Regions from separate parts of the Homo sapiens genome. Here region 2 is linked to region 1. The links come from fine-mapping of genetic effects on gene expression. A gene starts in region 1. The other region holds a variant in brackets. All regions are shown on one strand. Distances are from middle to middle.

Region 1 (8,344 bases):
GAAGAAGGAAGGAAGGAAGGAAGGAAGGAAGGAAGGAAGGAAGGAAGGAAGGAAGGAAGGAAGGGAGGTTAGTTTAATGCTTGGACTCTATTTCAGACATCTAGCTGAATGATAATGGGCAAAGGGAGAGAAATTTTAGGTTGGAAAGAGTACTTTTATAGGGAGAGAGGGATGCAGTAAAGAAGGAAAGACTGAAGCCAGGTGCGGTGGCTCACGCCTATAATCCCAGCACTTTGGGAGGCCAAGGCGAGTGGATCACGAGGTCAGGAGATCGAGACCATCCTGGTTAACATGGTGAAACCCCGTTTCTACAAAAATACAAAAAATTAGCCTGGCGCGGTGGCGAGTAGTCCCAGCTACTCAGGAGGCTGAGGCAGGAGAATGGCGTGAACCCGGGAGGCGGAGCTTGCAGTGAGCCGAGATTGCGCCACTGCACTCCAGCCTGGGCGACAGGGTGAGACTCTGTCTCAAAAAAATAAAAAATAAAAAAGAAGGAAAGACTGAAGATGCAAGTGGCAACGATGAAATCAATTGGGAAGGATATCCTAGGAAAAGTTAGGGCACAAGATCCAAATCAAAGAGATAAGAGGCCCAGGACTGAGAGACACAGGCCTCATATTAACTTTGCTATGAGCTATTTTATCTGGGGCAAATCACTTAATCCTCTGAGTTTGTTGCCTTTTCTGTAAAATGAAGATAGAGCTTACATCATAAGATTATGATGTGTAAACAAAATAACATTTGTTAAATACCTGGCATATATAGTATACTACTATAAAATAAGTATATATTTATTGGATTATACAGAGAATATTTATATCCTTATAGAATATATGTAGGTACAGAAATGTATTGATTTCCTAGGGCTGTTATAACAAAGTGCCACAGACTGGGTGGCTTAAAATAACATAAATTTGTTCTTTCAAATTCAGGAGGCTAGAAGTCCAAAATCAAAGTGTCAGTAGTGTTGATTTTTGGAAACTCAGAGAATGATTTTGTTCCATGTCTCTCCCCTAACTTCTGGTGGTTGCTGGCTATCTTTGGCATTGGTTCCTTGGTTCACGGTAGCATAACTCTCATCTTTGCCTCTATCATCACAGAGCTCCTCCCCACCTGTCCCTGTGTGTCTCTGTCTCTTCTTTTTGCTATAAGGACAGCCGCCATATTGGATTTAGGACCCACCCTACTCCAGTATGACCTCAATCTTAACTGATTACATTTGCAATGACCCTATTTCAAAATAAGGCCACATTCTGGGTTCCAGATGGACATAAATTTTATGGGGCACAATATTCAACCTCGTACAAGAAATATATTGCTAACTTATCTTTTGTTTTATAATAGCTTCAATAGGCTTTTTTTTTTTTTTTTTTTTTCTTTTTTAAGAACTGGGATTGGGGCCTTAAAAGGGAGGATAGCGAAATGTTTGAGGGCTGAGATTATGGAATTTGGATCCCATCTATTCCTCTTCCGGTCATCTAGCCCTTGGAGGCTACACCTCTTTAGCTGTCAGTTTTCTCATCTGGTAAACAGGGAGTCATGATACTTCAGAGTGTTTTGGGGAGGATTATGCGAAGTAACATATGCAACACACTTAACATAGGATTTGGCCCGGGGCACAGCCCTTGCCTCCCTCACAAAGGCTGTCTGTAGGATAGAAGTCTAGGTTTGTGTTCCTGTAAACAAAGAAGATGCCTTGTTCTCTTATACTTGCAGGCTGAAAGTGCTGTTTGCAGAGCCAGTTGCATTGTTCTGACACTTTCCTACCAATATTTCTCCATACCTAGTTATTCAGTACTAAGATGAATGATTTATTGCTATTGTTGACTCACATTCCACAGAAATGCTGGATCACTTTTCATTGTACCTCCATGTCTAACATTTCAGTTGCTCATTGACTGTATAATCACTTTATTACTATACTCCAAAAGTCAACTATTTAAACAACATCTTTTTGTTTGTCTTTTTGAAAGACTAATTTTAAAACATGTAAATAAATCATGTGTAAATTTTCATGAGTTTAATACATAATCACTCTTTCAGGTAGAAAACCAGGTATTTTATCACATCTTTTTTCTTTTAATGAGAAAAATAATGTTCTATGTGGTTAGATGACTTAAATATAACAGTTTGCTCTGTCCTGATCAGTGGAGATATGTATCTTCCACAGCACTGGTGCATATTAGTGATATTCTAGGAATTCATTGTTGATCACCTGGTAATGAAATATAAAAATTTTAGTCAATATTTGCTCTCTGTGGTAGGTCTCTATCTTATCTATAAAGACTCACTACTAAACCTTTGAATAGACTTAAAACTTGGCCTGAAAATATAGTGCCAAAATCTATATTGATCTCTTATTGATTTAACATTCAACTTTGTTAGCATGCTGTTTTCCTGAATGCTGTACTAAGAAGACTGGGGCGGGAAATGGGGAGGGATTTAAAAATCTGAATAAACTCTTTGCCATTCTTAAGTCACTTGTATATCATGAGTTCAAACTCTATTGTATTCCATTGATTTTATGAAGCAATGGACAGCATGGTAAAGTAGGACCCTTTAACACTATGCTTGCAGTCCCCAAACAGGTCAATATATTCTCAAGACTTCAATAAAGTGAATTTAAGAATTTTTGTATGCCATCGCCTATTATAAACTTCATGCCTAACTAGACAGGCAGGGAAATTTACAGATTGACTTATAAAATCAAGACAAATTGTGCATTAAATTCAAACCTCAGGAAGCCCCAAGGTTATGTACCAACTACCTGAGTCTAAAGAAGCCAAATACAACAAAATTCCTAATGGTTCAAAACAAATTACACATGCTTTAGAGCTAGTACTTTGGCTGTACTTGTGTTTCAAGGCATACCTATACTATTCTTTTGGCATTTTGCATTTTACCTAAAATATGTTCGATATGGATGTTATAAATGGAATTTATTATACTTACATAATAAGTATAGTCATTTCCATTTATAACAGCTGTATCTGATATATAAGGGAGCACTTGAAACAAAAAGAGATCTTGGTGCATGTGTGTAAAAGACAAGGCTAGACTGTTTTTGTGTTTTCTGAATTCACTGGGAGATGAACTAAGACTTGTTTTCTCCATCTCCAATTTCTGTGACTGTGGTATGTTAGCCTGGTATTCCACCACATATAAATTTTTAACCGAACACAGATTTCATGAGTTTGTGGCTTGCCTGAACTTCCTTTTTTAAAATCCTGGACATTTGCAGATGAAAATAATCTGTTACTTTTAAAACTGCACTTTACAAAATATTAATATAAATGTATATGTTTTGCAGATTTATTTCAAAACATTCTAAATTCCAAAAATCTTTACTGTTACAAACCCAGTGAATTAGGCAATTTGGAGAGTTCGTGTAAACAGGCACTACTTTGCAGTAAGTTTGGTAAAGATAAAGCATTTCAGCACATGTTCTGCCACAAAGCATTTGGGACTCTTATGTTAGAGCTTCAGAATTCCTTCTGAAAAAGACAAAAGAGAGACTTCCTGTCATTTCCACTGGTTTCTGCATGTGGGACCAATATGGGCAAAGTTTAAACAGATGCAAATGGTAAGGGGAGGAGGCAGTGTCACGTCTTGTTTTACGTATTTCTTCATATCCAGATTGAATTTAAGTCATTCTCTTCTTGGAGCTTTTGGAGTACACTTCCACTAAAGTTATAGCATGCTTGAATGGTTTATTTCACCAATATTTGCTTATGGAAATAAAGGGGAGTGGCCGAGGAGAAAGGAGAAGAGGAGTGGAGGAGGGGTTTGAGGCTGAGGGAGGCTCTGACCACAGCACAGAGCACCGGCAACTTTGTCTAATGTGATCATTAACCTTCCTGCAAAACACAGCTGGCAGTTCTCTGAGGTTTGTCACTAGAATGTGAAGACAGCCACACAGATATTGCACAGACTATTTACAGATCGTTTGGTTTACATTGAGAGTCATTGCTCTACTTTTGTGCGGTAGGAAAATGAGATTTCAGCAATTCCTTTTTGCATTTTTTATTTTTATTATGAGTCTTCTCCTTATCAGCGGACAGAGACCAGGTAGGCCTTTGATACATTTGTACAAGTAACTTGTTTTGCCTGTTTGCATCCCTGGGTCTCTGAGCATGATTGTGTTTATCTGAAAACCACTTAGGTGTGCTTGCAGTTAGTAGTATTGGGGATAAATGTGTAGGATTTTGAAAGTATGCTATCTATCCTGTTGGGTCTATTATTTCAATATTTTAAAAACATCTGGACTTTGAAATGATAAGTATTTTACCACTATTTTTCCTAAATGCCAAGAAAATAGATCTCTAAGCTATTGCAGATTATGTTGTCTTTACAAGTAAAATGAAACAGAAGTGTTCGTCTATTCATTATAAAGGTAAATAAATGTATAGATTTTTAGGTAAAATGCAAACTCCAAAGCAGTTTATTTAAAAAGTATGTTGCTGCCCAGAGTAGGGGCTGAATTAACATACAAAAAGCATAATGCAACAAAATGCAGATTAAATCTTAAAACAGGTCAATAGCTGTCATTTCTAATTATGTAACTAGGCATGTCACTTAAAACAAATAAGTGCAGTTTTTATTATTATGCTTATACAGCTAAAAAGCATCAAAAATATGTATGATAAAGATACATAATATTAATTTACTTGACATGTTTTCAAAGATGATATCAAGTATATTGTACTTAACCAACAGAAATTTAGTACACAAAAGTATTCTAATGTACTTTTACTTCAAAACCAAACAGCTAAGATTTCAAAGAACCAGTAAGTTTGAAAAAAAAAAGAAAGAAAAGAGAGAAAAGAAGAGAGAAAGAAAGAAAGAAAGAAACAGAAAAAAGAAAGAAAGAAAGAAAGAAAGAAATTAGAAAGTTAAAGTTTTCTGAACCACAAACCCAACTTTAAATAAAAAGGTGGTAATATTTACATCCAAATATGTTAAATTATTCACTTGATAATATACTTCTTCAGTTAGAACAGAAAACGATGCATCACTTGTTAAAAATTCAGACTTTGCTTTTTAGTGAATTAGAAGTTTGATCACTGTGAGTTTATTTCGAATGATGTCCCCTGGTCTGTGCTTTTACATAAGTAAGAAAAAAGTTCCAATTCAGCAACTCTGAGAAAGCAGCTTGATCCCTTCTCATTGTTTACAGCAGTCACTATTCAAACCATTTATACTTTTCAGAAATACACAGTAGCTTTGACAATGTTCTTACAAAATATTTGTGATTAATTTACTACATAAAATAAAAGGTCTAGGAGCATTTAGGAAAAAATCATTCAAAAGGAGGAGGATATTACTATTAAGATGTTGCTATGTTGCTCAACGATGGAGTTAAAAAAATAGGAGTAAAAGAAGATCTTGCTATTAACATTAACTGTTAGGAACACCCCTTGTGTATATGCATCACATTGGTTTTTAATTTTATAATCACATTTGAACAAATGGCAAATAACCACAATCTAGTTTGGCTCCAAAATATGTTTGCATTGTCTAGATTAAACAACAATTAAGCCTCTGAAAAATGCTCCTAATACTTCTCTCTTTTTCCTTCAGTTAATTTGACCATGAGAAGAAAACTGCGCAAACACAATTGCCTTCAGAGGAGATGTATGCCTCTCCATTCACGAGTACCCTTTCCCTGAGGTATTTCTGACAGAAAATAGATTCGCTACATTTAGGCAGTGTTCCAAATTAGATATACCAGGAAATGTTTCTTCACAGTTTGTAATATGTGATAATGGCTTATGGCAATGTCAAGACTTAAGAGATGCATACCAATAAATGAAAGAGTTAAATGAATGACATGACTTTTGAGAATTGCTTTAATAGTTAAGGAAGAAAATTAGACAGATGAGGACAATGTAGGAAAATCTTGATAACTGTTGAATCTGAGTAACAGCTATTTGGGGGCTAATATTATTGCGGATGTTATGCAGAACGAGCCGATTCCCCTATTAAGACCAGTGTGTATGAAAGCATTTGGATGTATTCACCCAACAGCCCCATACCAGCAATGAACTACCATCAATACTTCGGGGTTTCTTTTCTTCTCCTCCTCTCCTCCTCTCCTCCTCTCTCCTCTTACCTCTCCCCTCTCCCCCAGGGTCTTGCTCTGTCACCCAGGCTGGAGTGTAATGATGTGATCCCAGCTCATTGCAGCCTCAACCTCCCGGGCTCAAGTGATCCTCCCACCTCAGCCCCCCAAGTAGCTGGGACTACAGGCATGCGCCACCACTCCTGGGTAATTTTTGTATTTTTTGTAGAGATGAGGGTTCCCCATTTTGCGCAGGCTGGTCTCGAACTCCTAGCCTCAAGTGATCCACCCGCCTTGGCCTTCCAAAGTGCTGGAATTTCAGATGTAAGCCACCACACTTCATATTCCTATTCAACTATTATTTGCCCTCAGGGTTTATTTATTTTTTCTGAAAATATTTCTTTTAATAGATAAAGTAAAGTTAACACTAATAAAATGGCAGCTTTCCAGCCTCACCAATAGTAGTGATCTTGATAGTCACATCTTAAGGATAAATTCTGGTAGAGTTTTGCTCCTCCCTTTTCTTGTTTTTACACTTGTTAAATAATGTTAGACCACCACAATTACTGGTAATACTGCTTGAATCAGTTAACTTCAAACACTGTCCAAGTTTAAGTCACTTCATACTAAAAAATACACAGTTTGGCATTCCATTGTAAGTATTTCAAGCTCATTAATTCATTTAAGATATAGCTTCCTTAAAAAATGCCACAGAAATATCCCTCATCTGGTTAACATACACAGGCAATGGCAAAATTAGCTTATTCAGTTGGCCTGTAGAGTAGCTTTTACGGTTCCATTCATTCAGTGGAAAGAACAGTTGCTGTATCTATTGTTTAATGCATGCTTTCCAAACCCGGGGAAAGCCCTGTAGTAGAAAATTAAATGAAGGAGGAGCAATTTCATAATAAACATTTATCAAAAGGATTGAGACAAAAATGTCAAGTTCTCTATGTCTATATCTGTAACAAATTAATCTTTGTTATCAAAATATGAAAAATAGCTTTGGTGGAGGAATCCAGAAAGATACAGTAGGAGGTTTCTGAGAAGCCAATTAATGGTGATTGAAACATGCTTTAAAAAGATTTTCTGTGTTAAAATATCCTTTGGTGTGTGTTGATAATGCTTCCAGCAGAGCATTTCAGTGTCATGTATGAAATAATGGTAAAAATCTGTGCTTAAGAGGAATAGAGACACCCCAGATTTTTCCAGCACTCCTTCATAAATAACAAAGAGGAGAGGACACATTTCACAATAGCAAGAGAATTCCTGCATATACAAAGAAAGATACCTTGCAAAATATAAACACAAGTCTTTAGATAGCCACATATTATCCTCAAATCACATACCATAAAAACCAGTGTTACAAGTAAGCATGAATAGTGAAATTTGAATTTTTAAAGTTGAGGGGAATTTTGACTTACAAATCAAGTTTGTAAACCAAAGGGAAATTTAATTAAAGCTATGCAAACTACTTAATAATAGCAACTCTTTACAAAAGTTGGCTGAGAGCTTATAAAACTGCTTGGGTGACAGCATCCATTTTCTCAGTTTTAGACTCGTTCTACATTTCAGCTACTGTTCTTTGAAGAATGTTTAAAAGTCACCTGTTGGAATCTACTGTAAGAGTTAATGTAAGATAAACATTAGAAAATTTTTCAAGACCTTGCTCAACCAGCACTATAATAACAAGTGCTACCTTCAGATCTGATAACATAATTCTCACTGTCCTAAATACTTTCCCATTTTTTATATGTTTTGCAACAAAGGCACTTTGATAACTGGGTAAATGTACTGTAAACCTAGGTAGTGGACTCTAAGGCAAAACACCCCTTTCACTTCTTCCCCTCTAATTTTTTGGATGCTTTAGATAAAATCACATGTGGTTATTTGATCAGTTAGGATCAAGTAAGACTTTGTAAAAGGATAGGTAAGGTAAACAATTGACTTTGAAAGTTTTCCAGATTAACCCTTTATTAGAGTGTTCAGACCTTTAGCTCTTTTAATAGAAATGTCATATTATCTTTACTCTGTCAATTTTTCCAGCTCCTAGGGTCATCCTCAATGATCCCAGCCTATGCAACTGAATTAATTACACAGAAAATTACATGCTGTATGCCGTTCATTTCCTTGATTTTTTTTTCTCAGAAATATTTTGGCACCACCTTCAGTCCTAAGTGATTTAGAGTGAAGGAGAGCAAGGGAAGGGGTGTCAGGAAATGCAAGTCTACAGGTTAATGTGAGGGCCCTAGAGTGGAAAATGAGGTCGCGACTTAAGGCTGG
Region 2 (8,344 bases), 78 kb after region 1:
AGCTTTACAAAATGGGATCCAAAGGATGTTCCTGACCCCAGTGAAAAAAAGATAATATGACTAAATATTAGCTAAAATAGGATACTCAAGAATTGAAACCCATGATACAAGACCTAGGAGTGATTATCTCACTGTTTCTGGGTTCAACCCCAATTTTGTGTGTTGTTACACTTTGAAACAAGTATGACATCTCAGAGTGAATTGATAACAGCTTTAATCGGATGATCTCTCCCAATGTTATTGACATGATTTACTCCATCCAATCAGCAAGTGGTAAATATCTGGCTACTAAAGATTTGGCTAGTTTTTTTCAGGCCTATTTCTACAGCTTCCTGGCCATGCTTTCCCTTTACCTCAAAGGAATTTTATGCATCTCTACCCACTAATCGTGGGCACCTCAGCAGTCTTGCCTTTGCACACAGACCTTGTAGGGAAGATTCCAACTTCATTCAACTTCTTCCAGAACAGCAGGTATGATTTACATGGATGACATTCTCCTCCATGGTGATCCATTTGAAACACTCATTCAAGCCATGAAAATACTCACAAAAGAGTTTACACAAAGGGAATGGGTCATTTCCCCCATACAGTGCAAGCCTCTTATTCGATTAATTGCCTGAAAATTATTTGGTAAACTGAAAGCAACTCCATCTCTGACACTGTGGAGAAACAGCTATAAAACCTTTCAATGCCCACAATGTGAAAACAAGCCCAGTATCTTTAACACTTTTTGGATTCTGGAGGAAACATACTCATCATTTATAAATTTTGCTTAAGGTCACTTATGCTGTTACTTCCAAATCCACCCATCTTTAATGGGGCCCCCTCCACGAAAGGCCTACAGACTCTAAATTGTAGTACATTAAGCTCTCACAGGCACTGAGCCTCTAACTCTTCATACTCAGTTGCTCAGCATGCCTTGGATTCTAGAAGCAGCACCCTGCTAGTTCAGCACAGGTATAGGAGGAATCCTTGTTACATCATAGAGCCAGACGCAGGCCCTCTGCCATATTTCATCCACAGGAAGGGGTAGCCTGCCTACCTTGTCCTTAGTCCCTGCCACATGCCACTGGGTTTAGGAGATGGCTCCTCTCTTAGGTCCTTTGGCTACCTGAGAGACCTCCCCCTCACACCTCCGGGATCAAATGATAAACAGCAGTGGGGGTTTATACACTGTAAGGATGGCATAACCATTGCCATGCATGATGAGCTCAGTAGGGATTTACTACTTTTCATTTATTAATCAGGACATTCTTAACAAGCAAAAGGACTCCAAGGTCAGTCAATGGATGGAACTTCAGGCCATCTTCTCAGAATTGGAGCCCCTGACCAATGATCAGCCCAATATGCAGTTTTACTAACTATGGAGCCATAGCCTTGGAGTTACCTGCTTCAGAGTAAAGAATTCTTGCCTCACAAATATCCAAAATCTAACTCAAGGTCACACATTTCTCTATATACACTAAGGCCACAATACGAAACCTCAACAGGATCTGGAACTCCTTTGGAGTTCCAGACATTACTGAGAGGGACCAAAGACTCATTTCACTTCCCAGAATATGCAATGCTGGGGTCCTGAAGAAGGCATTCAATGGAATTGTAACTTCCCTTACTAGATTAAGCTGTCAGCTTCATTAAGCACCATAAAGGCTTACTCAAACAAGTTCAAATTCAATGAAATGAAACATGGTGCATCTAATCAACAGTTAAACATCAGGGTGTGGGGGAATCCTACAAAATAGTTCAAATCCATTTTTACAGTTTTTCACCCTTGATAACTTTTAATCGTCACTCCTCCATTTTTTTCTTTGGCCGCACATTTGGGCAACCTGCCAAGAAAGCCCAGGTGCTCCCTCCTTCAGGGCAGGAAAGAGATTCAAACCAGGCAACTTTCATTGTGAATGAGTGATCCCTCACCCTGCCCACACCTTAACCTGAAGAAAAACACCAAGCCCGTCTTCTTTCTCTGCTCTCACAGTCCATTTACAGACCACCTACAGGCCTGTGCTGCTCTCCTTCAACACCCCAGCATGTGAGAAACAAACCTGTTCCTATCCTTCTAGTGTGTGTGTGGGTGTGTGGCATAATCAGTCTTTATATCTGGACTAAATTTGATGGGTGTTCAATTTTTCCCATGTGGGGTTGACACAACAATAATTAGGATGCTGTATGATCTCAGTTTAATTATTGGGATATTATGGAAAAGTCCCAACATGCAGAAAGAGAGACATAATTGTACAATAGATCACCCCAACCCCCATAGATCCATTACACAATTTCAATAATTATTATGGTCAATTTTATTTTATCAAGATCATGCTCTACCTTCCCCAAATCATTTTAATGCAGTATTCATACATCATATCATTTTATCTATATCTTAAAATAAATCACTAAAAGAACGATTTTAAAAGTGTAAGTGCAGTATAGGTATCACATTTAATATTTAAATATAGTTTCATTCCCTCTCTGGGTGGTCCACCCTCCCCGCACCTCAAGGTGTTCACAAATCTCAAAGCTCCTCATATTACTTTCTTCAAGAATTTGTATAAAGTTTATTTTCCAGGTCCCCCCACCATCCTACTGAAAGTTCTAATCACTTGGTCTTCTGTGAGTAGCCCTATCCTGAGGCTACCCTGGGGCCCCAACCCAACCCACCTCATTAGCATAAATCCAGTTGATCCAAAGGGGCTCATTATGAATAACAAAAGACTGGCTGGGAGCCATGGCTGTAATGCCAGCACTTTGGGAGGTCAAGAAAGGAGGATAAGGCCAGGAGTTCCAAACTAGCCTGGCCTACATAGTGAGACACCGTTTCTTCAAAAAGAATAATTTTTAAAAATTAGCTGGGCATGGTGATGTGTGCCTGCAGTCCTAGCTATTTGGAAGGTTGAGGCTGGAGGATTGCTTGAGCCCAGGAGTTCCAGGTTACAGTGAACCATGACTGCATCACTGCACAACAGGGTGACAGAGCAACATCCTGTGTCCAAAAAAAAGTGAAACAAAAAAACCCAGCACTTGCCCTTATGCTCCACTCAGTGCATGATGTGTTACTTCCGCAGCTCCCACCCCATCACAACCATTCTGCAGGTCCCTACCCCTGTCCCCTTCACCAACCCAGGACCCTGCAGGAGCAATCAGAGAACAAGAGAGAACTGCCCTCTGGGACCTGTCACTTCCCCCATGCTGACTGCATAAGGAAAAAAAAACTCCCTACAGGGTTTAAGACTGAATTCGTTCTGAGGTCACCATTTTGGTGAACAAGAAGTAGGGACTGTGTTGCGTCTTCTGACCTGGATCGACGAAGAAACAGCTCTGCAAGGATGGAAAAAGCTGACAATCCCCAGTGAACTGCTGACAAGTGAATACAGGTAGGCTCCGCACCCTACACTAACCCTCTACTGGGAGCAGAATATCTGAGTGAGGATTGCACCAGGAGGCACAGGTGAGCTACACTCAGTAAAGGGCGTGCAGCCTTTGGCTGGACCTAAGCTGGGGAAAGTAGCCACATAGGAAGGAACCTTGGGGAGTTTGTGCATTTTATTTTTTAACCATCAGTTTTGTATTATTAGAAAGATAAACATTCCAATATACATCTAAAATTATATATATTGATTATAATTCAATATGTTCTTGTATTAATTAGCATATTTATATGTACATATTATACAGAAATACATATAATTACATACCTTACAAATGTAATTAAAATTTTATTATGGTATAGGAACATATACATACCCTACACATGGTTGGCAGCATGGCTATAATCCCAGCACTTTGGGAGGTCAAGGCAGGAAGATCGCTTGAGGTCAGGAGTTCCAGACCAGCCTGGGCAACCATCTCTACAAAAAATAAAATATAAATATGCTGTTTTATATTTACTTAAAATTTTATTGGCCCAGCACAGTGGCTCATGCCTGTAATCCCAGCACTTTGGGAGGCCAAGGCAGGCAGATCACAAGGTCAAGAGATCGAGACCATCTGGCCAACATGATGAAACCCTGTCTCTACTAGAAATACAGAAGTTAGCTGGGCATGGTGGAGGGCACCTGTAGTCCCAGCTACTCAGGAGCCAGAGGCAGAAGAATCGCTTGATCCCGGGAGGCGGAGGTTGAAGTGAGCCGAGATCGTGCAACTGCACTCCAGCCTGGTGACAGAAGGAGACTCCATCTCAAAAAAAAAAAAAAAAAAAATTATTATGGTATTATAGTAGTATACACATGTCCTACACATAACCTATTTGGTTCACTCTTTACTCTGACATCGTATATGAGACAGTTCTTTTGTATGTTGTATGACAATCACAGATTTGGACTTCTCATAAGGGGCCTCATGCTGGTTTGCCCTAATTACATCTAATTATGTCTGAACTGTTCTGCATAATCAGCATATCTACCATTAAACAGTCAACAGAAGAATCAGAAACACAAACCATTCTTGGAATATATTGAGTTCTGTGCCACACCAAATCCTATGTTTTAAAAAATTTTTTCCAGGCTGAGCTCAATGGCTCAAGACTGCAACCCGAGTAGTGTGGGAGGCCCAGGCAGGAAGATTGCTTGAGGTCAAGAGTTTGAGGCTACAGTGAGCTACGAACTTGCCACTGCAGTCCAGCCTGGGTGACTAAGAGAGATTCAGTCT[C/CA]AAAAAAAAAAAAAAAAAAAAAACAAGTTTTCCAGAAGATATGTCTTTATTGGTGTTTATATTTACAGAAAACTTAAAGGGAAATTGAGGTTGATTTTCCTTGTCTTCATGTGACCACAAAAGGATGAAGAGAGGATATCAGGGACCAGCCCCAGATGACTCAGGTAATCTGAGACCAGGCCTGGGATCCACACACAAGACACACACACCCAGATGGAAGCACAATGCCTAGTCTCGCTCTTTCCTCAATCCCGATTTAAACTAATTTGGCAGTTTTATGAGATTAAAGAGGGTGTAGACAGGAAATTGGTAGAGGATGGAAAATCGATTAAGATTAGGGACAACTGTGAGGAGGAAGACAAAGGAGACAGAATCTGAGAGCCCTGAGGCGGACTGAAAACGGGGAGGCGGCTCAAAGAAAAGAGTAAGAGAAATGAGCTTTTCTGGAACGAGGCATTGATAACGCTGAAACATGATTAGCCTTTTGAAATAAATCTTTCGTTTATTTATTTTTTTGAGACAAGCTCTCGTTCTGTCGTCCAGACTGAGGTGCAGTGGCGCCATCCTGGCTCACTGCAACCTCAACTCCCCAGGTTCAAGCGATTCTCCCACCTCAGCCTCCGGAGTAGCTGGGACCACAGGGGCGGGCCAACATGTCCGGCTAATTTTTGTATTTTTTGTACAGACAGGGTTTCACCATGTTGGCCTGGCTGGTCTCAAACTCCAGAGCTCATGTGATCCGCCCACCTCAGCCTACCAAAGTGCTGGGATTACAGGCATGAGCTTCCATGCCGGGTATAAAAGGAAGCTTTTAAATTGTGGAGTATTTCATACATCCATAATAGTAGAGAGAACATTATGAAGAACGTACACATAAAAAGAAACCAATTTCTATCATTTGAATTAACAATCTTTATAACCCCAGCAACTTCTCCTGCCAATGGAGTAAATTCCCAGACATCTTATAATTTCATCTGTATATTTCATCTTATAATTTCATTATTTATTCCCTAAAAGACAATATCTCAATTATCATAGTGTTACTGTAACTTTTAATAAGCTGTTCAGTGGGAATTATAACCATATTTTTCTCCAACCAGTTATAAATAAGATTCAATAAATTAAAACAGCAACTGGAATTCTCTTCTGTTAAGGCGGGGCAGGGAGAGCCCTCAGTCTGGCACAGGTAGGGTTGGGTGGCAGAAGAGCAAAGCAAACAGCTGAGGTTCCTTCAGAATGCAACTTTCTCACAGAACACAAGGCTCTCAAGGGGCTTCAGCACCCCAAGCACTGCAGCGTTTCTCCCAGGAGGCTGGGCGAGTCCGTAGCGGAAGTCGGAGCGGCAGAGCAGTGATTGGGTGCGGCCGGCACCGTCTCTGGGCTTCGACTTCCGGGTGAGACCGTGAAGGTGTGGCGCGACGTTGGAGACCGGGGCAGCGCCATGTACCACAGTGGATGGAAGGATGCGCGGTGCGGCGGGGCAGCTGTCCTCTTCTCCCCGGACCCAGCGCCTGGAGAGCCAGCCCTGCAGGGTGGGCTGGGCGAGCCAAACTGCGTTCCTGGTGCAGGGCTTCGGGTCTCCCTAACAGACCTTATACGCTGACCGGCGGCCGCCATGGCAGTGTCTCTTTGCTCAGACATCCAGGGACGACCACATTCGTCCAACAGCGGTCGCTCCACCAATCCTGGGAGAAGCGAATCGTTTTCTCCGCGTGCCCTGTCAGCCGCTCATGGTGCCCAGAGAGGAATTTTAGTGGCAGCATTCCGGCTGTCACGCCACCGAAATTGCCAGGCCACTCCAAGTCAGAAGGACCACCAGGAAAAGTCAGGAAGAGAACCACCATCAGGTCCCAGCCTCTTTTTGTGACAAGGACTAGAGGGTTTGGGTCTGCAGTGGGCTGGCTCCCGCTGGGCTCACCTGTCCTATAGAGCAGGCTGCCTCAAGGAAGAAGCTCACAGGGGACATCTGACATCTGAAACAGCAAGTGTAAAATGCTTTAAATAAGCCAAAACTAAACCAATCGTTATGTTAACTAAAAATACATGAATGCTACCGAAGATAGTCGAATATTAGAGGAAGAGATTAAACTCTGATTTTGAGCACTTTGTGCTTTATTCGGAAAATGAATAAGATGCAGTTCTGAAAACCTGAAAATATAAAGAATAGGATATGATACGCACACTAGATGAAAACAAAACTTTCAGACCATATTTTCTTATTTAAAGCTCTAATAAGTGAGATAGCAGAGTAAACTATTCACTCAAATAATTAGTAACTGATATAAGGGTATGTATCAATAACAGGTATTAAGACAAAAACTTTATGAGCTTTTCCATTTTAACAAGGGATGATGATTCTAGACTTCTGCCACAACATTATGGTCGACAAAACATTCTTAATTCATTTTACATAGATCTGACTCTAGATTCTGAAACAGCAAGTCATAATCTTGTATCTCTAAAGATAGAATACAGTGCGATTTGGAAAGACACCACAAAAACTCATGATCCAAAAAAGATTAAGGCTGTTATTACCAGGAGGAAGAGAAAGAGGACAAAATCAAACTGGATAGATATAATAGAGTTGTTTGTTAGAATTGTCTTCCCAGGAGATGGAAAAAGACGCCATCACAATAGGATTCATGCTTTAGTTTTCAGCTATAGAAATGTAATAACTTTGCCAAAGTAATTACACTACATAGAGTGGCAATCGTTCTATTAAAAGTAAGACCCAGTAATGTTAGGATTTGTTCTGGACAATGAAGGGGATGAGGTTTAATCTTATGACTTGAATGCCAGGTCTGAAATCTTTTCTTCAAGTGATATTTTTATGAAACTACTTAGGCTGTGTTTCACACTGGGTATGATTTCTAACCTCTTATAACCTGTACAGTAATAGATTATGAAGGATGAATTATTTGAAAGCTATTTTGTATTATTTAGGAGAGGAGCTCTTCAATTCTGAATTGTCTGCCACTTACAAGCAGAAGAAAGTTTTTTTCTTTCATTATTTTAGCAACTATCAATAAAACAGTATTAGAAATGCCTACTCTTCAGAGATGTAATGGGAATAAATTGTAAAGTACTTTTGATATTCTAAGATGAAAGATGGTATTACACAGTCAATAATTCAATGCTTCCCACATTATGAATTTTATCAAAATTATGTAGAGAGCTATTAGTTCATTCCAGCAACAAAACAGGCTTATATAAAAACAAAAACCTCCTGGGTCATGCCATCCTACACCAAATTCCTGTTAAACAGAGGCATGATTTATTCCAGTGACCTTGCTATTTCTTCATAACTGTAATATGTCTAATGTTAGACATTTTAAATTAACATTCTATTAGATAAACTGAGAATTTAGGTCTCTCGCACCACCCAGGCACATACTCTATCTTTCCCCACAAATATCCAAATATGGTAATATAATTGGATTAATACGTTCATATGACTATATAATTGTTCACAGCTGAGCCACTTAGGTGCTATAATTATAATTTCTTTGATACACAAATTTTGTTTTATTGTGATTAAAATTGCCTGATTTCTTACTTGCTGCATTTTCTGTTTATCTCTTTCAGCCCCATATCTGCTCATCTCTAAAGTTCCTTTCTAAACTCGACATGTAATTTGTTGATTATATTCATTTTCTTTATAGTGCTCAATCTCCTGAAGCCCTCTGTCATCTTAGCATGA

Direction of the effects. Alleles are on the strand shown, and positions count from the first base shown. SD is a standard deviation of normalised expression in the study named.
In carriers of allele CA in region 2, the expression in lymphoblastoid cells of the gene that starts at base 3,839 in region 1 tends to be higher than with C alone (moderate effect, 0.74 SD a copy in GEUVADIS).

Evidence for each region. PIP is the estimated chance that this variant, and not a neighbour inherited with it, causes the effect.
Region 2: its variant is fine-mapped to the expression of APELA in lymphoblastoid cells (GEUVADIS, PIP 0.95).

Annotation. Positions count from the first base shown.
Region 1 is chr4:164,873,340-164,881,683 of GRCh38, forward strand. It overlaps APELA (apelin receptor early endogenous ligand), which reads left to right and starts at 3,839. Exons shown (of 3, transcript NM_001297550.2): 1 at 3,839-4,068; 2 at 5,581-5,670. The coding sequence starts at 3,993. The coding sequence ends at 5,669. RefSeq lists an enhancer at 1-171.
Region 2 is chr4:164,950,924-164,959,267 of GRCh38, forward strand. FAM218A (family with sequence similarity 218 member A) reads left to right here and starts at 6,025. Exons shown (of 1, transcript NR_160935.1): 1 at 6,025-8,208. It also overlaps a transcript of TRIM61 not described here. RefSeq lists enhancers at 5,775-5,824, 6,125-6,284. The variant C/CA (reference allele first, on the strand shown) is at 4,645.